3 linked regions of the Homo sapiens genome follow. The protein of the gene in region 3 purifies or fractionates together with the protein of the main gene of each other region. This does not show direct contact. Each region holds a gene or a part of one and is shown on either strand. Other genes may lie near its edges.

What was found.
Region 1: the proteins of SCARA5 (region 3) and HS3ST2 purify together in Homo sapiens (affinity purification with mass spectrometry; 2 studies listed by BioGRID and IntAct, with this or other methods). This does not show direct contact.
Region 2: the proteins of SCARA5 (region 3) and COLGALT2 purify together in Homo sapiens (affinity purification with mass spectrometry; 2 studies listed by BioGRID and IntAct, with this or other methods). This does not show direct contact.

Annotation. Positions count from the first base shown.
Region 1 is NC_000016.10:22,809,232-22,817,823, reverse strand, and holds the start of HS3ST2 (heparan sulfate glucosamine 3-O-sulfotransferase 2), read right to left. Parts: upstream 3,663-8,592; 5' UTR 3,214-3,662; coding exon 2,729-3,213; intron 1,132-2,728; coding exon of another isoform or gene 1,002-1,131; exon of another isoform or gene 1-1,001. UniProt on the Homo sapiens protein: Sulfotransferase that utilizes 3'-phospho-5'-adenylyl sulfate (PAPS) to catalyze the transfer of a sulfo group to an N-unsubstituted glucosamine linked to a 2-O-sulfo iduronic acid unit on heparan sulfate.
Region 2 is NC_000001.11:183,943,227-183,951,184, reverse strand, and holds part of COLGALT2 (procollagen galactosyltransferase 2), read left to right. Parts: intron 1-71; coding exon 72-178; intron 179-5,620; coding exon 5,621-5,753; intron 5,754-6,861; coding exon 6,862-6,989; intron 6,990-7,958. UniProt on the Homo sapiens protein: Beta-galactosyltransferase that transfers beta-galactose to hydroxylysine residues of collagen.
Region 3 is NC_000008.11:27,919,017-27,926,974, forward strand, and holds part of SCARA5 (scavenger receptor class A member 5), read right to left. Parts: intron 3,230-7,958; coding exon 2,555-3,229; intron 1-2,554. UniProt on the Homo sapiens protein: Ferritin receptor that mediates non-transferrin-dependent delivery of iron. Mediates cellular uptake of ferritin-bound iron by stimulating ferritin endocytosis from the cell surface with consequent iron delivery within the cell.

The sequences.
Region 1 (8,592 bases), on a different chromosome or scaffold from region 3:
AGTTATCACCAGGGGCTTTGATGTGGGCAGATCATACTAAGATCCACACTGCCTGCAACTCTGCACCTCCCCCTTTGGAAAGCACAGTCCACTCCAATGGGTGCAAGGGTTCTTTGGCTATGTCTGCCCAGTGGACCCTGGCTTTATGATGGCAAGCTGTGAACTGACAAGGCAGTGGACAGAGAGCGGAACATCCTGTCACCCACCGTACCTAGCTCATGGGATTCAGGAAGAAAGTAAGAACATGGGTTTTAAAAGATTCCAGAAATCCCCATGATTTCTGCAGTTAATGTGTATGACTTGGTCATAATAAAAAGAAATGTACAAAAATGTTCTTTACATACAGAAAGATGTTCTGGAGGTTATGGAAACAGCATCTAAGTGGGGTAGTATTACCCTGCACAGAAATGGCAATCCACAAGCTAAACACTTGACTCTAGGGGTGTGGATTTGTAACTGAAAGAAGCACAAACCACACAGCCTTTTCCTGACACTGGAGCCTCCCAGCCTTCCTGGTCAAGCAATGGGGAGAGGGCAATTACGACCAGACCTCTAGGATAGTCTTTTAGAAATATAAAGTGGGGAAAGGTGGTAGAGGGGGAGAGAAGAGAGAAGCAGAGCTGTCAGCATGCTTGATGTTAAATAAAACCTACCAAGACTCAGCTGAGAATTTTAGCAGAATCCAAATGTGCTAAAAAAAAATAAATAAATAAAAAATAAGACATGGCTTCCCTCTCTAAGGTTCACAGCTAAGCTTGCTTAGAATCACACATGCCAAGGTTAAAAATAAAAAGCAGCCATCCCTGAATGACATGGGCTCCAGGATGGAAGCCTGAGGTATGCTGTTTAGTGGTGGAAGGAAGAGAGGGGAGGGAGGAGAGTCTGGGTTCAGGGCATAGGTATTTATTGGAGGGCACACTATCTGAAAGCCAGATGCTCAGAATTTTGCTGTTTTGCACTTAAAAGGCACTTCGCATTGGCAAAAGGTGTCATAATGATCTTCAGATTTTCCATCGAGGAAATGCTGGCCTGCATTCGAATGTGGTCATGGCTGACCCACTCTGGGCTCTGCTGTTCAATGTGTTTGCCTCCTCCATCCCGGGATCTGACTCAGACAGTGTCCACATGCACCTAGACGGGATGCCCATGAGTCACAGCTTGGAAAGCACAGTGGGCTATTGGCATTGGCATGAAGCCAGATCTGCCACTCTGTGCCACCCTACCCTATTAACCAGACATAATGGTGCTGGGGCCACCCACAGGCTAGCTAGCCCCTGGTTGGCTGCAATGGGGACAGACTATGTGTCTGCCTGCTAAGGATGATGCATGACCCACTCGTCCCCACAACTACAACCATTGCGAGCCAGGAGTAACCTGCAAAGGTGCTAAATCAGGCCTGCGGTCCCCCTACTTTTGGTAAATCCAGGGCCCTCTATTATAAGCCCAGTGGGGTCCTCTTTCTAACAAAGTTGTCCCTTGTCCAATATGCATATGACCTCTACTGCCTAAAGCTGTAGATAAAAACAGCAGATTTAGCCTCAGCTACTCTGTCAGCTACCATGTTACCCCTCCCCAACGTCATTACTATGCAGATGTTTCTAGAAAGTCTTCAAAGGGTCAGGTGAATTGTGAGAATTCTGTGACCTATGTGTTAACAGGGAGCCGGGACATTACACCACCCACATGTGGGCCAGTCCTACACTTCAGCACCATACAGGGCTAGGGAGGCAGAAAGGCATTGAGGCGTGGACGCTGCCACCTCACAGAAGCTTTGGTCTGTGCCTTGACTCCCCCAGTGGGGATAATTCTCCTCCCTGGCATGCATGGGAAGCATAGACAGTCTATGCATGACTGGCTGCCCCTAGCACCCTTGCTAGCCTTCACCCGCAGGGCCCACCTTCAAATTCCACATTTTGGCTGCTGGTTTAGAAGCATCACTTAAAGTGAAGTGCCTTTTTTACACCTTTAAGGCACTTCAGAAAAGCCTTGGAAGGTATACAGGGCAAGGGCTGTTTTCCTGCCCATTGGGATGGATGAGAAAATAGAGGCTGATAGAGTTTAAGAAACTTGCTCAAGCTTAAGTGACAGACCCAAGACTCGAATCCAGGGCTCTTTCCACTACTCAAAGACCACCTACCAGGGCCAGAGCTACTGGGGGTCTCAGCCCCAGTACAGCAGCAAATACCTGGGTTTGAGATTGAGACTCCCTAAGGCATCTTTCTTACTGGAGACCTCTGGCGATGCACTGTCATTTGGCCTGAACTCTGGGGACCTTTCCCAAACAGAGCCTTGCTGCAAGGGGTCTCTGAACTGCCTTATCTTTCTCAGGGTCCTTCAGGGGCTGGGTACCAGCAAAGACCTACAGAGGGTTAGGATGGTGCCGTGTTCAGGCAGCACAGGTCCTCGCCTGTCCCTTCCTTGGGCACCCTAAGGGCTGGTCACAGAGGGAGTTAGCCCTTTAGCTGGCACTTAGGTTTGACTGGAGATAATCCTTTTCCAACGACTCCAGTGACGAGGGAACGCCCTTTGCAGTTCCAGAAACTGCCCGTCTAGATTATCACTGGGAAGTTCTGGGTAAATTCTGCTATAGCCCCCCATGGCCCTGTGTGTCAGCCTGAACCCATACAATGAGTTGGGTTAAAAGAAAGAGAAAACACAAGAGACGGATGGCTCTCCCAATGGAAGCGATCAGAGACCCGGCGCACGGAGCGGAGCTCCTGGTCCTTACCTGTACCAATCCAGCCCGCGGCCGTAGTTCCTGTCAAAGAAGTGGGGTTCCGTGCCCAAGGCCCGCACGTCCGGGTGTACTCGGATAAACTCCAGCACGGCCCGGGTGCCCCCCTTCTTCACGCCCACAATGAGGGCTTGGGGCAACCGCTTGGTACCCAGCTTGGGTGAGCCGGAGTGGTTGGAACCGGAGAGGCGAGGGGCGGGCACGGCGGCGGCGGGCGCGCTGGGAGCGCTGGGCTCGCTGGGCGTCGGCCCGGAGGGATCACAGGGGCGGGACTTCTGGAGAAGTTTCTGGCCGCCCGCGCTGGGGCCGCGGAGGCAGCGAGGCGCGCCGAGGAGGCGGCTCCGACCCAGGTCGTCGCAGCAGCACAGGAAGCTGTAACACAGGTAAGTGCAGGAGAGCGAGAGCGTGAAGGCGAAGAGCAGCCTGCGCGCCCTCCGCGGCTGAGGTGGCCCCGCGCGGCCCAGGACCCTATAGGCCATGGCTCCATGGGCCCGCGCCGGGGGTCATGGTTTCCGAGGGGGCACCGGCGGCTGAGCTGCTGTGGCCCTGCGGTCGCCTAGAGGGCTCGCGTGGCGCTGCCACGGCCACGCGGGTCGGGCGTTGGGGGCGCCGTCTTCTCCGGGGGCTGCTGACCAGGGTGCGCACAGTGCCAGGGGGTCCCGGGGGCAGCGGCTCCTCGGGGAACAGGCGGTTGCATTTCCAGCATCTCCCGGTCCTAGGCGATGGGGCTCCGGGCAGCCGGGCGGCTCGGGCGCTCCCAGGCTCTTACGTGCGCCGGGTTCGGAGCGCGCCCAGCGCCCGAAGCCCCATTCCTGATCCTCGGAGCGCCGCTCACGAAACGCTCGGCGGCGGCGCGGCTGTGCGGGCTGGCGGGTGGACCGGACGGTGGCGCTGGCGCCGGCCGCGATCTGGCTCTTCGGGAAATGCCGAGCGGAGCGCGCTGCCGGCTCTATTTAAGGAGTGGCCTGACGTCAGCCGCGCGGGTCCCCCGAGCCCGCGCCGCGCCCAGGGACCTGGCCCGCCCCCTGCGCCCCCACTCTCTTACCCCTCCCAGAAACACAGCACGCGGGCCCTCCCCATGCAGGCCACTCCCTACGGAGCCCCAGGCCAGCTTTGGGGCGGTGAAACGAAGGTGTCAAGGCATAGTACTCCTCCGGGAGGCTGGACACCCCCACCACGCTGGCCTCTCGACATCCAGGGACACGAATCCAGGTCGAGATCGCGCCGACATGCAGACCAGACAGACCCAGACGCAGACGCAGGCACCCTGCCCTGATGCGCGGTCCCACCACCCTGACCCGCACACGCACGCACAGGCACAGAAGCACACGCGCCCTAGCCCGGACACACCCCCACACCCACGCGGGGGTGGGGAGGAGAAGTCCCCTAACCTGGGCCCAGATACACCGACAAGGACACTCCCCCCGCTCTCGACATCTCGCCAAATGGACACACACAGCCCGGAATCGGACACCGAGCGCACGCACGCCCTGGACTGGGACACGCGCTGTAGACGGGATGGGTGGAGGAGCCGAGCGTGAGTGAGATTCCGTGACTATTCACCCAGCTTCTTAGCCCCCAGCGCGCTGACTCACACCCCGGCGGCTCGCTCTGTCTCGCACCTATGAGGCACGCGCGCACCCCAACCCATTGTCACCCCACCTCTCCCCGGGCCTGCCGGAGAGCGAGCCCCGGAGCGGCAGACTCCGCGTCAGGAGGGTTCCTCTCTTAGCAGCCGCCGCCTAGCGGTAGACTGCTCCCCGGGGAGCTGTCCAGGGTACCAGAGGGTCGCCGAGGGCTGAGTGAGGAGGGCTTCTTCACACAGAGACACTAGGAGGAGGAAACAGAGTACAAGGAGAACGTATCCAGGAGCAATTCCACTTCGAATGATTCCTAAGTGAATGCCTACAGGACAGTTCTCGGTGACCATGTCCAGAACAGGCATAAGTGACGATCCCCAGTACTTCCCTGAGGGACCACACTGGTACCTTGGATCAGAACCCTGCATCAGAACAGGCCTAAATGGCCATGGCTAAGAACACGGCTGAGTTGTCCTTCAACAGCAATGCCAATGCCAATTCACCATGTCCGAGTGTTCACAAGGTGAGTGCCCTCCACCACCACCCAGCCATAGAATGTCTAGATGACCACCATGACCCCCACCCTGATCAGGGTATAACTGACTTCCTTCCTCAGGCTGTAAACTGATCATTAGGTTCTGTGGATCTTAGCCCAAACCAGAAAATATTTTGTCCCCAAACTAGTCCCATCCCTAGAAACCTTAAACCAATTCTACGGCAGATAATAATAATAGCTGCCAACTTTGTATCAAGCACCTGGCATGGGTTAACTGATTAAATATTCACAACCTATGAAGTTGTTACCATTACCCTGGCATCACTTTGCTGTCTTAATTCTAATAGTAGCTAGCATTTATTGAGTGCTTGTTTTATGGGAGTTATGCGCTAATCACTTGACATGCACTACCTCATTTATCTTTGGAGATAGGTATTATTGTAATTTCTAATCTACAGGCAGTGATAAGAAGATTTAACAAACATATACACAGTAACTGGCAGAGCTGGGATTAAACCCGGGCAGTCTTGACTCCAAGATTCAAGCTCTTAGTTACAGCACTTTGCAGCTTCCTAACTTCCTTTGACCATTATTCATATAATTCCATCCTAGGCTCCTCTCCTGGATGTAAGCTAATTTGTCTATGTCTCTTCTAAAATCTCACACCTGGGACTGCGCGAGGAATTTCAGATATGGATTGAAAAGTTCAACAGGACTCTCACCTCTCTTTTGTAAGTTCTATTTCTAGTAATGCCACCTAAGACTCCATTATCTTTTTCTTGTGGCTATATCACACTGCTGACATCTCAAACTTGCAGCCAAGTAACATCTCTAAATGTTTCTTACAAGTGCTGCTGATTAAGGCACAGCTACCCCATACTGTGCTTGTACAGTGGGCCTTTTTGGACCCAATGTGTAGGTCCTTATAGATTTGACTTGATTGCATTTCATCTTGTCTCATCAGTTCGCTGCCCTAGTTTTTTTTAAATGTCTATTTGAAGTCAAACCACGAGGTAGCTTTCATTTATTCAAAAAGAAAAAGTAGAAAGATTGTATCCCAGCTTTACCCTTTATTCCAGGTGTACTTTGGGCAAGTGGACCCCCTTTAAGCCTCAGGTTCCTCAGCTGTAAAATGGGACGCTATGATTCACCTTAAAAGTCTCTCAAAGTTTAGATGTTGCATGATTCTATGATTCCATTACCCAAAGCATGAACCACTCACTTGGCATCATGTAATTTCCACAGTTGATCACAATTTAATTAATTCCTCATTCTAATTGTTAATAAAAATGTCAAAACAAATATACTTAAAGGAGTTCTTCTTCTTCTTTTGGGTGAGGGGAAGTGTCTCACTCTGTTGACCATGCTGGCATGCAGTAGTGCAATCATAGCTCATGCTGCAGCCTCCACTTCCTGGGCTCAAGGGATCCTCCTGCCTCAGCCTCCTGAGTAGCTAGGACTACAGGCATGTGCCACCACACCTAGCTAGTTTTTTAATTTTTTGTAGAGATGAAGTCTTACTGTGTTGCCCAAGCTGGTCTTGAACTCCTGAGCTCAAGTGATCCTCCTGCCTCAGCTTCCCAAAGTGCTAGAATTACAGACATGAGCCACAATGCCTGGCCTGGAAGGAGCTCTTATATATACTTTGAACAATTATTCACATCATGAACCTGCTATTTTTGTATTCCATTGTTAAAATTACAAGGTTAAATGTGGAGTCATCTGCTGTGATCAGTACTATTTCCCTTAGAAAATAAAACATGAATATAATGATTTCTCATAATTCTGTGCTTGGCTTAATTTTTAAATAATTTTTAACCTTTGAATTCATAAACTGTGATATCCCTGGGTACTCACATATATCAAAACCAGGAAGATTTTCCTCTTCAAATTTCCAATCAGAGTAATGACTGACTTGGATAGAATTTTTTAGGAAGTGAGACATTGGACATACCTGCCCATCTCCTAAACCTTTATCTGTTTACAGTAGCAAACGTGATTCTGCTTTGGGGGTATCAGGTAGGATTATGCTGGGTTGTGTAGTTTGTCAATTAACACCCACTTAAGCAAGGTATATGTTTATTTTTGTAATCACATGAAAGTCCAGATGAAGGTACTTTAGGGCTTGTATGGAAGCTCCAAAGTGTTTGGGACCCAGGCTCCCTCTATCTTGTTACTCTACCATGCATTTCCTCCATTCTAAAGTCACCACATAGTCTACAATGACTTATTCATCTGCAGCCAGAATGTTCACATTCTGGTCATTAGTAAATATGTAAAGACATGCCATATCTGTTTAAGGACATTTCTTGGAAGTTGCCTGTATTATTTCAACTCGTATTCAATTTGACAGCATTTTATCATTTGACTTTCTAGCTTCAAGAGATGCTTCAAAATGCAGTCTTGATTCTGGATGGCTGTATGCCTGGCTAACACTTTGAGATTTTGGTATCAAGAAAGAACTAAAGAATGGTTATGGAGGACAACTAGTAATCCTTGCCATCCTTGGACAAACAGTTTTCCCTCTTTTATTCCCATGTGGTTTGTATGGGTTGAACATAGTTCAAAGACAGGCATATGACCAAGCCTGACATCATCACTTTCTAATTATATTTCAAGAACTGAAAGTAACTCAAATCTTTCTAGTGAGAATAAACCACACAACATTTGTGAAAACTATTGGAAAAGAGAAACTTCTTTTTCTGAGATGATGAATTAATCTAAAATAAGCCTGAAGCTTCCAATGGTCATCTCTGCTATCAAGAGGAGAAACCAACAATAAAGCCAACAAAGAGGAGAGCAGAACTGATGGAGGGAGAATTAGATTCCTGATAATATCCTTTGAACCTCTGAATCTAGCCATGCGGAATGCATGGACCCTGGACTTTATTGCTGCAGTGATTAGCTATCTTTCTGTTAGCACTTGCAACTGAAAGAGTGCTGACCAATACAACAAACAAACAAAAAGAGTTGCTCCCTCCGTTGCAAGGAATAGATACCATTTTAATAAAAAGTGTTGGAGGTGGGGGGGCTTATTTTGAAGGATATGCATGTATCAGGACTGCAACCCTTCCAAATTTGAGACAGTCATAGGATCCAGTTACTTTCTTCAACTTCTCTACTTTTCTTGTATCTTATTTATTTTGCTTCTCATTCTTAACTGCCATTGCTCTTTATTTATGAAACAGTAAGGGTTACTAGAAGTGAAAAAAAGAGATTTGGGATATCTTACACAGGAAAGGAACTTTGGGGTAGCTCACAAAATTAAGAAGAAGGCTGGAGAACTGGGCTCAAATAGAATAGCAACCAAAGAGCACATTACACTCTCTTTCTTTTCTTTTTCTGAGTCCATTTCTCTTTCACATTAGCATTCTCTTGAATCTTCCTTCCCACTCTAATGCCCTGCATTCAAGACTTTGAATTTAAAATCATAAAATAGGAAATTTTCTTCCCCTTCAGTCTTTGGGCCTAATCAAGCCTTGTTATTCAGTTTTATTTCAGTGTGTAAGCTTCAAATCTGTTCCCTAAAGCAGAGTTTTGCAAAAATGTGAGAAAATGTCCCAAAGAGGGTGACTCCTATGAGGCAAAGGACAGTGAAGTGGAGCCACATGGTCTGCAGGGTCTGTGAGGTACAAAGTTTGCATCTGAATCAGAGGATGTGCATATATCTGCTACATTTAGGAAAGAGGTTGAGAGCGAGAATGAGAGATTTCAGTTGTGCTTCATTCTTTGGATAAAATCAGAGGGTAAAAGCTCAAGGGGCTTCCAGATACTGCCTGTAG
Region 2 (7,958 bases), on a different chromosome or scaffold from region 3:
AAACTTTTCAAACAGCCTAAAAGAAGACTTGAGTAATTTATGTGTCTTTTCCCTTTTCCTTCTTGCATTAGATTTTCATGATAAACCTCAAACGCAGAAAGGACAGGCGGGACCGGATGCTGCGCACACTGTATGAACAGGAGATTGAGGTCAAGATTGTCGAGGCTGTGGATGGAAAGTGAGTTGGGTTTCTTCTCCCATTGCAGATGTGATTGGAGTGTGGATGTGTCTTCTCTGACAGAGAGTTAGTCCCAGGTGGGGCTCTAAGTCTCTTCGGTCATTAGAGGATAGTCTTATTTTCAAAACGGCCACCTGTAGTAGCATTTAAGTTAATTTCATCCTGTAGAGCAGGCCTGAAATCCACTCACCAGCCAGTGGTCTTTGGTCTTCATTACACTGAAGGCTCACATTGGATGTGATTGTCCCGTCTCTGGGGGTTCTTGCAACAGTTGTGGTGGTTTTCAGCCTTCTGTAGTGTAACAGAAGGAATGTGTTCAGAATTGTGTTCAGAGCTGAATTAGAGCATAAAGTGCTGAAACTTGGTCAATCTGAAGAAAATAGATGGAAAATGCATAAAGGTGTACATTTCCTGTTGCATGAGATGCCTGCCACAATCTGCCTGGACCGATCATAGTGGCCACTTTTCCTGGAAATATGGCAGGAAAGTAACACAGGGAACCTAGTTAGATCCCTTCTTTTTTTTTTTTTTTATTTTGTTCAGCTTTGCCCTTTTATTTGACACCCTAAACTATTTCAAGGCATAGATTTTTATAAAATGTGCCTTTCCATGTTATATGTTGGTTTAGAATATCAGTAGCTTTGTTTTCTATTTGCATAACTCCAACTAAGGAGTATGGCTAGCAGCTGTTGAAGTTTTTATGACTCCCTTAGAGAATCTCATCAGTGTTTCCCAAAGTGTGACCTGGACACTCACATCAGAGTCCCCACGGATGGTTAAGGGGACAGCTCCCTCAGTCCCATCTCAGACCTGCTGAATTATGCTCTCTGAGGCTGGACCCAGGATCTGCATTTAAGAAGCCTCAAGGTGATTCTTAGACAGGATTGCCCCATAAAATACTGGATAGCCAGTTAAATTTGTCCCAAACATCACATGGGGCTTGGTTATACTAAAAAATTATCCATTATTTATCTGAAACTTAAATTTGACTGAGTGTTTTGTGTTTTTCACTTCCTAAATCTGTCAGCCCTATTCTTGGGTGCAGTAGAGTTTAGGAACCACTGCTTCAAATACCTCCAAGAACACCAGTCCCATTCATAGACCACATGGACCAGGGAAACTAGTTGAGTAGTGAGAGTTCTTTATATATCCTGGATGCAAGTCCTTTATCAGATATGTAATTGTCAAATATTTTCTTTAACTTTATGCATTATTGATTGTCACAATTTCATGATGGTATACATTGAAGCAAAAGAGTTTTTCATTTTGATGAAATCCAATTTATTTTTTGTTCTTGTTGCTAGTAATTTTAGTGTCATACCTAAGAATCCATTGTCAATTTCAAAGCCATGAAGATTTACTTCATGAAATTTTCTTCTGAGAGTTCTACAGTTTTATCTATTACATTTAGGTATTTGATCTATGTTGAGTAAATTTTTGTATATGGCATGAGGCAGGGATCCATATTCATTCTTTTGCACATGGTTATCCATTTGTCCCTTCACCATTTGTTAAAAAGACTTTCGTTTCCCTCGTAGAATTGTCTTGGCACCATTGTAAAAAGCCAGTTGCCCATAAATGTAAGGATTTATTTCTGAACTCTCTATTTTATTTGATTGATCTATATGTCTATCCTTATGCCAGTACTATACCGTCTTGATGACTGTAGCTTTGTATTTAAGAAGTATGAGTCCTTCAATTTTGTTATTCTTTTTCGAGTTTGTCTCAGCTATTCTGGGTCCCTTACTTTTTCCATATGAATTTTAGAATTAGCTTGTCAAGTTCCACAAATAAAGAAAACGGCAGCTGGGATTTTGATAGGAATTGCATTGAGTCTGTAGATCAACTGGGAGAATATTTCCGTGTTAACAATATGAAGTCTTCTGATTCGTAATCATGGAATGTCTTTTTATTATTTAGATCTTCTTTAGTTCTTTGAATGATGTTTTGTCATTTTCAGTATACAAGTCTTGCATTTATTTTGTTAAATATACTCCTAAGTATTTTACTCTTTTGATGCTATGGTACATGGAACTATTTCCTTAGTTCTATTTTCAGATTGTTCATTGCTAAATGAATAAGAATACAATTGATTTTTGTATATTGATCCTGTATCCTGCAACCTTGCTGAACCCTTTTTATCAGTTCTAATAGTACTTTTTCCTTTGTGTGTGTATATTCCTTAGGATCTTCTACATACAAGACCATGTCACATGCAAGTAGAGATAGTGTTATATGTTCCTTTCAAACCTGGATACCATTTATTTCTTCTTCATGTCCAACTACCCTTGCTGGATCATCAAGTACAATGTTGAATAGAACTGTTGAGTGCAGTTTCTTGATTTGTTCCTGATCTTAGAGGGAAAGCATTCAGTCCGTCACTGCTAAGTATGATGTTAATTGTGGGTTTTTCACAGATGGCCTTTACTGGGTTGAGGAAGGTCCCTTTTAGTCCTATTTTGTTGAGTATTTTTATCATAAAAGGGTATTGGATTTTGTCAAATGGTTTGTCCGTGTCTATTAAGATGAACATGTGACTTTTGCCTGTTAATATGGTACGTTACTTTGATTGGTTTTCACATGTTAAACCAAACTTGCAACCCTGGGATAATCCTGGGACCCATTTGGTCATGCTGTATAATTCCTTTTATAAATTGCTGGATTCTCTTGCTAGTATTTGCTTGAAGATTTCCACATCTATATTAATAAGTGATATTGGTCTGCAGTTTTCTTATAATGTTTTTGGTTTTGTATCAAAATAATATTGGCTTCATAAAATCAGCTGGGATGTGTTCCCTCCTCCTCTTTTTTTTTGGAAGTTTGTGAAAGATTCGTGTTAACAATTTTTAAACATTTGGCAGAAACCCCTAGTGAAGCCATCTGGTTCTAGGCTTTTCTTTATGGAAATTTTTTTTATTACTAATTAAACTTCTTTTCTTGTTATTTATTTACTTTCTATTTCTTCTTGAGTCAATTTTGGTAGTTTGTACCTTCCTATCAATTTGTCCATTTCATCTAGGTTATCTAATTTGTTGCCATACAATTGTTCATAGTATTATCATATAATCTTTTTTACTTTCATAAGGTCAGTAGGAGTGACCCCTCTTTCATTCTTGACTTTAATAGTTTGAGTTTACTTTTTTTTAATTCATCAGTTTAGGCAAATAATTGTCAATTTTGTTGATCTTTTCAGAGGACTGACTTTTGGTTTTGTTGATTTTTCTCTATTGTTTTTCTATTCTCTAGTTCATTTATTTGTACTGTAACCTTTATTATTTTCTTCCTCCTGTTTGCTTTGGGTTTAATTTTCTCTTTATCTAGTTTCTTAAGATGGATGGGAGGATTATTATTTGAGATATTCTATTTTACTAGAGACATTTGCAGCTGTAACTATATCTCCAAGTACTATGTTAAGTGTATCGCATAAGTTTTGGTATGCTGTGTTTTCATTCATCTCAAAATATTTTCTAATTTCCCTTGCAATTTCTTCTTTGACCCATTGGTTAGGAGTGTATTGTTTAATTCCACATTTCTGAATTTCCCAAGTTTCCTTTGGTTATTGATTTTTAATTTCAAACCATTGAGGTTGGAGAACATACCTTGTGTGATTTCAATCCTTTTAAGTATACTGACACTTAATTTATGACCTATATGGTCTTTATGGTCTAAAAAATGGTATTTCTTAGAGAATGTTCTATGCACACTTGAAAGTGTGTATTTGGCTATTGTTGGGTGGAATGTTCTATAGATGTCTGCTAGGTCTGATTATTTTAAGATATTATTCAAGTCTTCTGTTTCCTTGTCTTCCTCCTGCCTAGTTCTATTATTGCAGGTGGGATATTGATGTCTTCCCCTATTATTGTTGAATTGTCTGTTTCTCCTTTCAATTCTTCCAGTTTCATGGTTCTGAGGTTCTGTTAGGTGCATATGTATTTATAATTGTTATGCCTTCCTGATGGATTGACCTTTTTTTTTTGAGATGGAGTCTTGCCCTGTCACCCAGGCTGCAGTGCAATGGCACGATCTTGGCTCACTGCAAGCTCCAGCTCCCAGATTCACACCATTCTCCTGCCTCAGCCTCCCAAGTAGCTGGGACTACAGGCACCCACCACCATGGCCGGCTAATTTTTTGTATTTTTAGTAGAGATGGGGTTTCACCGTGTTAGCCAGGATGGTCTCGATCTCCAGACCTTCTGATCTGCCCACCTCGGCCTCCCAAAGTCGTGGGATTACAGGCGTGAGCCACCACTCCCGGCCCAGATTAACCTTTTTATCATTAAAAAATGTCCTTCCTTGGCTCTAGCATGAATTTTGTCTGAGATTTATTTTGCCCAATATTAGCATAGCTCTGCCAGCTCTCTTGTCATTGCTGATTATATGGTATATCTTTTTCTATTCTTTTACTTTCAACCTATTTTTGTCTTTTAATCTAAAGGCTGCCTCTTATAGATACCACATGGTTGTATTAATTTTTAAAACTTACTATGCCAAATTCTTCCTTCATTGCAGTGTTTTATTCATTTGCCTTCACTACATTTTTTTCCAGATCCTTAAGGTCAGCCAGAGGTGAGAGACTAGGGACTTCTCAAGTTTTTCCTGGGCGTGTGGACAGCCCTGAATATGCCTGGGGCCTTCTAGATTCTCAGGGATATTTTGGAGCAAATCAAACTCCCTATGGACCTCTTATTCCTTGGTTTTTCCTTTTAAGTTTTTTGGTGGGCTTCTTGTTAGCATCAGCTGATAATGCTTCTCAAACAGCTGTAATGTTAAACAGTTGTTGCTCATGGGTTTTGACAAATGACCTGCAGATAGTGCTGTTCACAGAAAATGAACTCTGAGTCAGGTCAAATCAAGACAAGCTCTGAGAATGTAGCTTTTCAAGGAGCTACTAGACAGGTTGAATAGAGATTATTTTCTGGGGGCAGGTCTTTAAGGGAGTCTCAGTCCATTTTGTCCCTGCCAGTGGCTTCTGGGTTGGTGGGGTTTGCCGCTCTCTTAGTTGTGAGGCTACTGGTTTTCAAGGCTTTTGTAGGGCTGGGGTGAACAGGTTAGGATTAGGGCAGCTGTGAACTTCACAAAGCTCACTGTGTTAACAGAGATTCAGCAGTAGGTCTTGATCAAACACTCCTTGGATTATTGCAGTACTTTAACTAATTTCCATAGGAGTGTACTTATTAAATCTTGTCAAAAAACTGATGATGCTTAGAACTATGTTGGGCACTATGAGGGATACACAAAAATATGATACCCTCTTGTCTTCCCAGACCTCATAATACTAGTGTGACACATTAGCCTGGAGGAACTTCTAAGGAATAAAGGGAAGCCTCTCTGTCTTTGTCTGTGTGGGGGAGGGGTGTTTGCAGAACTAACTCTCTCTTTCTCTGGCCTTTGTGGTGGGGACCTTTGACTTGTTAATCTCCAGACGTGTTTTATGTGATGCAGGGCACTCAACACAAGCCAGCTGAAGGCACTGAATATTGAAATGCTGCCTGGCTATCGAGATCCCTATTCCTCCAGGCCTCTAACAAGGGGTGAAATCGGCTGCTTTCTCAGCCACTACTCAGTCTGGAAAGAGGTAAATAATGCTTTATTCAGATTGCAGTTTTATGATGAGGAGAAAGGAAAGCAGGCTATCGTAGGTGAGTTAGGGCCAGATGTAAAGTGAGCCCGCAACTGTTCTGGAAATGTGCATGAGAGCTGCTCCTGCCTTGTGTCTCCCTCTGACCCAAGACCAGCAACAAAGGGGCAAGGAGGAGTAGCTTTGGTGCCACTTGGGGTGGTGACGGGGGAGACACCCATGTCCTGTGTGCCACACTCTTATTAATTCATTATCATCATTAGCAGGAATGCCTTCTATTATACCTATTATGACATCACTTATTAAGTGATTTTATACAAGAAATCACACAGAAGTCATGTGAGGTGGGTTGGGAAGGACAGACCACCTTTACCGAAGAAGAAATTATTAAGTAGCTTGACCCGGTAAGAAGTGGCAGAGCCAGAAGTGGAACCCCTGTCTTACAGATCAAGACATATCTGGAGCAGATATTGGTGTGTGGGGTTCCTGATAAACAGTCAGTTTCCACAACCAAAAAGAAAGTCCCTGAAGAAAGGCCCCTTGAACACTTTCTCTTTTAATGATCCAGTCTATGCCTGCCTTTGTTTTCTTTAAACTTTAAGTGAAATGTGATAAATAGGTATAAAAAGATATAGATCAAAAGATACAGCTCAGGGAAATTTCACAAACCAAACAACACACCCATGTTAATCAGTACACAGATCCAGAAGCAGGTAACCAGCATCCCACAAGCACCCCCCCACCCCGTACTGCCTTCTGGTCATCAGTCCCCAAGGGCAGTCACCATCCTGACTTCTAAAGGCATTGAATAGCTTTACCTTTGTTTGTACTTTCCCTTATATGAATGGAATCATGCAGTATGTGTACTCTCCTAACATGACATTTAGGAGATTCACCTATAACGTTGCGTTTAATTGTGATCATATATCCTCACTGCTGTGAATATTCCAAAGTTTATTATCTATTCTACTGTTGATGGCCATTTGCTTAGATTCCAGTTATGAATCTGTGCTACTAGACTCGTGACTTTTTAATACTTATTTATCTAATAAAAATTGGGTTTCAAACTTTTCATAGGGTATCTTCCTACTGATGACTTTTGCAGGTAATTGATCGAGAGCTAGAGAAGACTCTTGTAATTGAAGACGATGTGCGTTTTGAGCATCAGTTTAAGAAGAAGCTGATGAAGCTGATGGATAACATTGACCAGGCTCAGCTGGACTGGGAACTGATGTGAGTGACAAGATGATCTTACGAGAGGGCTCTGAGAGGCACTCAGTCCTTTCCAATGCGCAGAGAGCCCCACCTCCACAGCCAGTAGGAGATACAGCTTAAGCTTCCACTTATCTAGTTTTCTTTCCATAAATGTTCTCAGAAATAAAAATGGGTAGAGGTTAGCCACTGGATTTTGCATCCTTCTACTCTTCAGGGTGGGAAACTGTGGAAGATTGTCTGAGACCTGGAGTCGGCCTGCAGATCAGGGACCTTCAGACAGAACCAAGGTGTGGCACTGAGCACTTACTTAGGAGCACAGCAGAAATCCCACCCTCAATTAACGTGGCACATGGAGTGGGTGTGAAGCTGGAGAAGAGGCCATTTATTCAAGCTCTAAAGTCCTGTGTCATATTTAAGACTCAGCTCCCGGGACAGCAGGTTGCCTCTGCAGCTTCCGAGAAGGTGGGAGGTTAGAGGGTCAGCCAGGGAGCTCCTCTGTTGGGAAATGGGGCTGCACAAACATGAAGAACATGGACAACTAGATTTGGGGAAGGGTCTGAGGCTGATGCAGGAAAACCAGGCTCACCAAGGGAGTGCTGGCTCTGAGCTGACATTTAGTTAATGTTCTTTGTCTACTCTCTGGGAATTGAGTGGCTTCTGCTTTTTTCTTCCCTTCCCTTTCATTTTTCCTTCCCTTCCCTTTCATTTTTCCTCTCCCTCTCTCCCTTCCTCTTTCCTTTTTCTTCTTCCTCCTCTGCCTCCTCCTTTCTCTCTCTCATTTTCTTTTTAAAACAAATGACACTTTCAATTTCTCTCCAATGAAGCAGAAAGTTCCCAAGCATTGTGTTTGCTCCCAGCTGTGTGTCAAAGGCAATTCATCAACTCTGAGCCTGCTTCTTTGGAGCAGCTGCAGCAGAGGAGCTGTCCCTGCTTCTCCCACCCACAGGCGGTATTTAACTGTGGGCCCAGGTGGAATACTTGTTCCCT
Region 3 (7,958 bases):
AGGAGGAGAGAAGGGAGGAGGAGGAGAGAAGGGAGGAGGAGGAGAGAAGGGAGGAGGAGGAGAGAAGGGTGGAGGAGGAGAAGGAAGAGGAGGAGGAGGAGAAGGAAGAAAAGGAGGAGAAGGAAGAAGGGGATGGGAAGAGGAAGAAGGGGATGGGAAGAGGAAGAGGGGAAAGAGGAGGAGGAGGGAATAGAGAAAGAAGAGAAGGAGGAGGAGGAAGAGACGGAGGAGGAAGAGAAAGAGGAGAAGGAAGAGAAGAGGTGAAGGAGGAGGATGAGGAGGGCCCTGCAGGTGCAGGAGCCTCTGGAGCACAGCTGTCAGTGGGGAAGGTGAGCTGTGCTTCCAGGGCAGTGACGAGATGTGCCCCACTAGACTGGATGCATCACCCACAGCAAGACCATGTATGGCCCTTGAGTTAAACAATTAAATATCTCGAGAACATCACATGTTTCTGGTTTCGTTTGAAACAGAGGCAGACCTTGTCAACCTGGGTCCACCTTCCAGCCTGGCAAAAATGGGCTAGACCTGCCATAACCCTTAACACTCCCCTGACATTGCAGTCTCTACTCCTTGACATTGCTCACTGGCCTCTGCAGCAGTTCTCTCTGTGCCCCCTAGCATGAGAGGCAGTGGATGAGAAGGCAGGCAGGACAGGATAGGAAAGCAATGGGAAGCACACTAGCTCTGGGATCAGAAAGGCCAGCATGTAAATGCTGGTCCATCACCTCCTGGCCCTGCGGCTGTGGGCAAGCTATGGAAGCTTCCCAAATCTCAGTGTGCTTGTCAATAAAATAGGGAAAACATCACTCCCTTGGAGAGCCATTGTTTTCAAAAGATGCCCACATGAGATACAACTGGCACAGTAGGTAACACATACTAGATGCTCGCAATGGTATTATTTGTGCTGATGGCAGACTAAGGAATTTCTAACGAATCCAGTGGGCCATGGGGAGCCACAGTGGGCTTTGAGCAGGGGGATGACGTGGGAGAAGTGCATTTCATGAAAGGTGTTTCTGATGGTGAGTGCAGCAGGAAGGAATTGGGGGAGGGAAGGGGACCAGTTTGTCAGGAGTGAAGAAAGGGAGTTGGGTCTCTTGGTTCTATCATTTGTGGGCCCACAGCACGAGTACAATGGAGGCCCATACATTTTTGCATTTTTGCCATTATAGTTAAGATTACAAATGGACTGGCATTCCATAGTCCCAGCACTTTGGGAAACCAAGGTGGGAGGATCACTTGAGGCCAGAAGTTCAAGACCAGCCTAGGCAACATAGCAAGACCTTATCTCTAAAACAGTAATAATTTTTAAAAACTGGCCAGGTGTAGTGGCTCAAGCCTGTAATCCCAGTACTTTGGGAGGCTGAGGCAGGAGGATCACCTGAGGTCAGGAGTTCGAGACCAGCCTGGCCAACATGGTGAAACTCTGTCTTCTACTAAAAATACAAAAATTAGCCAGGAGTGGTGGCACACACCTGTAATCCTAGCTACTCAGAAGTCTGAGGCAGGAGAATCGCTTGAACCTGGGAGGTGGAGGTTGCAGTGAGGGAGATCATGCCACTGAACTCCAGCCTGAGCGACAGAGCGAGACTCCATCTCAAAAAAAAAAAAACCAAAACAAAACAAAACAAAAAAACAAACAAAAAAATGTAGTGGGGCATGGCAGTGTGCACCTGTAGTCCTAACTACTTGGAAGGCTAAGGCAGGAGGATCACTTAAGCCCAGGAGTTCAAGGCTGCCATGATCACATCACTGCCCCCCAGCCTGGGCAACAGAGCCAGACCCCAACTTGAAAACAGAAAACAAAACGACAACAACAAAAACAGTTACAGGGCGCCTGTAGTCCCAGCTACTTGGGAGGCTGAGGCAGGAGAATGGCGTGAACCCGGGAGGTGGAGCTTGCAGTGAGCTGAGATCAAGCCACTACACTCCAGCCTGGGCTACAGAGCGAGACTCCGTCTCAAAAAAACAGAAAACAAAAAAACAAAATACAAAACAAACAAACAAACAAAAAACAGTTACAAATGAAACCAGCTGATCGTTCAATGAAATACGTTCTTTTGCCTAAATGAGTAAGTCTTCCTAAGAGCCTAGAAGGCCAGGTTCAAGTTTGGAATTCTCTAACTCCAGATCTCCACCCTGGGAATGACACTAGAGGAGCCCCTCTCTACTCCCGGCCTGAGCCAGTTGTTCTGCCCCCAGCCTCAAGCTCTTGGAGGCTCCAGCACACCCACGCAAGCTGACCACCAGGCTCCCATTAGCCACAACTGGAGCAAACTCTCACATCTAGAAGAGTGGCCACTGAATCTGCTCTCTACCCGAGGGAGGTTTACCTGGGAAGAGACCTGTGCAAGCCCTGGATGTGGGTACATGCCATTTGGGCAGAAAATTCCAGAGTCCTGTAGGGCAAGACTTAGAGAGTATGGGGCTGGGAATGGCAAGTGCACTTGGGGATGGGGTGGGGCTGGGGTACTCCTGGGTCCTTGGGGAGGGGCGTGCAGGAGGAAGACCCCATCAGAAGGGGCCGTGGGTGGAGGCAGCAAGGGCCTGGCGGTACCTTTCGCGAGGGAGATGTTCCGCAGTGCGATGGAGTGCTCCCAGTCCTTGAGGCGCAGGTCCTCGGTGACCGCGTTGAGCATGGCCAGCTCCTGCTTCAGCTGCAGCTCCATGCCTACGTGCGCCAGGCGCAGGCGGCGCGTGTCCTCGCTGGCGTTGCTCACCAGCACCCGCAGGTCCTGCAGCCGCGTGCGGTGGAGGGCCACGTCGTAGGACAGGCTGTGGTTGAGGCCGCGCAGCACGCCGCCCACGTCGGCCAGCTCCTCGCCCAGGATGCCCACCCTGCGCGCCAGCCCGTCCAGCAGGCCCGCGTGGCGCCTCAGCAGCAGCTGGCTACTGTTGCTCTCCACCTGCAGCTGGTAGAGCTCCAGCTGCGCCGTGTCGCTCTGCTGGCCCGTGCGGTCCCGCAGCAGGGCCACCGCCTGCTCGGTCTGCACCGCCTGCGCCTGCAGCCCCCACAGCGCGCCCTCCAGCCGCTGCACTGCGCCCGCCAGCGCCAGCAACGAGTCTGACTGGTTCTGCAGCGCGTCCTGCACCTTCCACACCTGCTCCGTCAGGTCCGCTTGCAGCGGAGCCTGCAGCAGCCGCAGCTGCAAGTCCCGGAAGCTCTCATTCAGCCGGTTCACATTGCGAGTCAGGGCCTTCAGGTCGTCAGGGGAGCTGCGCGGCCTGGACACTGCGGAGGAGGAAGAGGGGAGACTTGAGCACCGCTGGGGAGGAAGGCCCCGGGTGACAAGAGGCGAACCCAGTCAGAGCCTGGCATGCAGTAGGTGCTCAATAAATGATAGACGAATAAAATCACAGGTGGTGTGCTGAGCGCTTTACTAGATCCCAGGTATTGTGCTAAACCAGTGGTCCCCAAACCTGCCTGCACATTAGATTACCTGGCTAGGTGTCTCACCTGCAGAAATTGTGATTGAATTGGTATGCGGTGTTACCTGGGCTTTGGAATTTTTAGAAGATCCAGAAGTAATTCTAAGGTGCAGACAAGTTTGTGAGCTGCTGTTCTAGTGTAACTATCATAGGTTAATTCAGTGGACCCCTAGGAAACTGCCAGTTGCGAATGTTGAAAAGCAGTTGCATATCAGCAGTTTCATGTAGGTCAGCTTAAGATGTTGGGTGGTGTTATCCTCTCAACTTTAGAGGGTGGGTACCTGCTGCAATCTGAATAAGCCCCCCAAAATTCGAATGTGGAAACTTAATCACCAAAGTCATAGTAAGGGGGGTCTTTAGGAGGTGATTGAGTCACGAGGGCAGAGCCCTCGCGTATTAGATTAGCAACTTTTTAAAAGAGGTTTGAGGGAGCTGTTTGCCCTTCTTGCCACCTGAGGACACATAGAAGGCACCATCCATGAGAAACAGGCCCTCACCAGACATGAATCTGCTGGCACCTTTATCTTGGACTTCCCAGCCTCCAGAACCATGAGCAATACATTTGTTGCTTATAAATTACCCAGTCTACAGTATTTTGTTATAGCAGCCTGAACAGACTAAGACAGTACCATTCTTATCCCCTTTCAGAGCTATTAGCATTGCCCAGGGTAAAAATTTACAGCAAGTAAACCTTAACTAAGAATGCTTGCTCCAGAGCCTGGGGGCTTCCCCTCAAGTCAGCTCCAGGACTGCCTAAAGGAAGAGCACCCCGGCAGCAGACTCAGCCAGGCTCAAGGCCACCGTGTCTATTTTCTGGCCTCCTGAGTTCGGGGCCCTTTCCCTTCTGCTCACGTGCTGTGCCAACAGCCTGTCTGGGTGTTCTCAGAGTGTTCTCACGACTTCTGATAAGCCACAGTGTCTCCTGGAGCTCCAGGGGCAACATGAGAAGAAACTGACGTGAAATTATCAAGCTTTCCATTCTCCAACAGCCCTGTCTCAATACTTGTCACCCAATCAGAGTCCATGATTGGACAGACACAATCCAATGAAGACTGCTTTTATATTGATATGCTCCTTCTCTGCATCTTCTACTTCTTTGTGTTGTTTGTTTGTTGTGTTTTCTGTTTTTGTTTTGTTTTGTTTTTTGAGACAGAGTCTCACTCTGTTGCTGTCGCCAGGTTGGAGTGCAGTGGTGCAATCTTGGCTCACTGCAACCTCTGCCTCCCAGGTTCAAGTGATTCTCCTGCCTCGGCCTCCCAAGTAGCTGGGACTACAGGTGCATGCCACCACTCCCAGCTAATTTTTGTATTTTAATAGAGATGGGGTTTCACCATGTTGGCCAGGATGGTCTCGATCTCTTGACCTCATGATCTGCCCGCCTTGGCCTCCCAAAGTGTTGGGATTACAGGTGTGAGCCACTGCACCCGGCCCTACTTCTTCTTCTAGATCCTCTATTTCCTCTTCAGCAAAAAACCCATCCCAGTGATCCCCCACCCCTTCCTCTTGGAGGGTTCCCTTTTCTTGGTTATAAGCAGCTATTGCATAATACTAAGAACAGTGATGTGTGTCTTCATCGTTAGAATCTAGCATCCTTGTATCTCCTGGGAGGTCGTGGACTGTTCTGACTCAGGTATGCTACAAATCCTGAGTGGGGATGTCTAGGGATGCTCATTGTCTGTTAGTTGTGTCCTGTCCACGGCTGTTCCCCACTCTGCTCTGCATACCACAGAAAGGGAAATAAGGCCTGGTGGTGGGATAGGTAGGAGGTGGGGGCAGATGAGGCACAGAACAAATTCCACCTTGAAAATCTTGGAGGTAACTGGGGAACTTGGTACACAGCTTGTTCAAACAATGAGAAAAATCAGATGGAATAAGTTCTCATCCAGAACTTCACATTGAGAAGGAGGGATATAGGTTGTGAGGGCTCTCTAGCCATGGAAAGATCAGCTGTTACAATCTTTCAGTGATGCTTCTGGAAGCACACGGCATTTGTGGTGGCCACCCTGGAGGAGATAAGTCATTCCAGCTTAGGCTCAGAGGCTCACAGGGCTGAAGGGGTCTTGGAGCCTTGCCTCGACTTCTCCCCCACCCAGCACTTTAATCTAAGAAGGTCACATTGCAAAAGGGTCCTGGCACCCCTGCTTACACCAGTCTCTCCATCTTCAGTTAGTGCTGACTGTCAGAATTTTCTGTATTCTGTTCAGACTTAGAATTTGCCTCCTTGTATTCAATTAGGAAAAGAGGAAGTCAAATTGTCCCTGTTTGCAGATGACATGATTGTATATTTAGAAAACCCCATCATCTCAGCCCAAAATCTCCTTAAGCTGATAAGCAACTTCAGCAAACTCTCAGGATACAAAATCAATGCGCAAAAATCACAAGCATTCCTATACACCAATAACAGACAAATAGAAAGCCAAATCATGAGTATACTCCCATTCACAATTGCTACAAAGAGAATAAAATACCTAGGAATCCAACTTACAAGGGATGTGAAGGACCTCTTCAAGGAGAACTGCAAACCACTGCTCAACAAAATAAAAGAGGACACAAACAAATGGAAGAACATTCCATGCTCGTGAATAGGAAGAATCAATATTGTGAAAATGGCCATACTGCCCAAGGTAATTTATAGATTCAATGCCATCCCCATCAAGCTACCAATGACTTTCTTCACACAACTGGAAAAAACTACTTTAAAGTTCACATGGAACCAAAAAAGAGCCCGTTTTGCCAAGACAATCCTAAGCAAAAAGAACAAAGCTGGAGGCATCATGCTACCTGACTTCAAACTACACTACAAGGCTACAGTAACCAAAACAGCATGGTACTGGTACCAAAACAGAGATATAGACCAATGGAACAGAGCAGACGCCTCAGAAATAACACCACACATCTACAATCATCTGATCTTTGACAAACCTGACAAAAACAAGAAATGGGGAAAGGATTTCCTATTTAATAAATGGTGCTGGGAAAACTGGCTAGCCATATGTAGAAGGCTGAAACGGGATCCCTTCCTTACACCTTATACAAAAATTAATTCAAGACAGATTAAAGACTTAAATGTTACCTAAAACCATAAAAACCCTAGAAGAAAACCTAGGCAATACCATTCAGGACATAGGCATGGGCAAGGACTTCATGACTAAAACACCAAAAGCAATGGCAACAAAAGCCAAAATAGACAAATGGGATCTGCTCAGGGTGAGCACGCAACCTACAGAATGGGAGAACATTTTTGCAATCTACTCATCTGACAAAGGGCTAATATCCAGAATCTACAAAGAACTCAAACAAATTTATAAGAAAAAAAACAAACCACCCCATCAAAAAGTGGGCAAAGGATATGAACAGACACTTCTCAAAAGAAGACATCTATGCAGCCAACAGACAGGTGAAAAAATGCTCATCATCACTGGCCATCAGAGAAATGCAAATGAGAACCACAATGAGATATGATCTCATGCCAGTTAGAATGGCAATCATTAAAAAGTCAGGAAACAACAGATGCTGGAGAGGATGTGGAGAAATAAGAATGCTTTTACACTGTTGGTGGGAGTGTAAATTAGTTCAACCATCGTGGAAGACAGTGTGGCTATCCCTCAAGGATCTAGAACTAGAAATACCATTTGACCCAGCAGTGCCATTACTGGGTATACACCCAAAGATTATAAATCATGCTACTATAAAGAACATGCACATGTATGTTTATTGCAGCACCACTCACAATAGCAAAGACTTGGAACCAAGCCAAATGTCCATCAATGATAGACTGGATTAAGAAAATGTGGCACATATACACCATGGAATACTATGCAGCCATAAAAAAGGATGAGTTCATGTCCTTTGCAGGGACATGGATAAAGCTGGAAACCATCATTCTCAGCAAACTATCACAAGGACAGAAAACCAAACACTGCATGTTCTCACTCATAGGTGGGAATTGAACAAGGAGATCACTTGGACACAGTGCAGGGAACATCACACACCGGGGCCTGTCAGGGGGTGGGGGACTGGGGGAGGGATAGCATTAGGAGATATACCTAATGTAAATGATGAGTTGATGTGTGCAGCAAACCAACATGGCACATGTTGTATCAAACCTGCACGTTGTGCACATGTACCCTAGAACTTCAAGTATAATAAAAAATTAATAAATAAAATAAATTAATAGAAGATGCTCTCAGAGGATCACAAACACTGCCGTATAATCTAGACCTTAACTATTTCCTATGGGATTTATTTAGTGCAGTTTGATCTCAAGTGTGAGATGGTGAGAATCCTGAGAGGTTTCTTTCAGGTAAGAAAACCTGAGAGGTAAGAATCTGAGAGGTTCTGAGAGGTTTGTGCCAGATATGCATTTAGATCTCTTGGGATGTAGGCTGGAGCTGGCCACGTATTGAGACAGGGCTGTTGGAGAATAAAAAGCCTGATAATTTCATGTCAGTCTCTTCTCATGATGTCCCTGGAGCTCCAAGAGGCACCACAGCTTATCAGAAGTTGTGAGAACAGTTCCAGTTTTGGTTCTC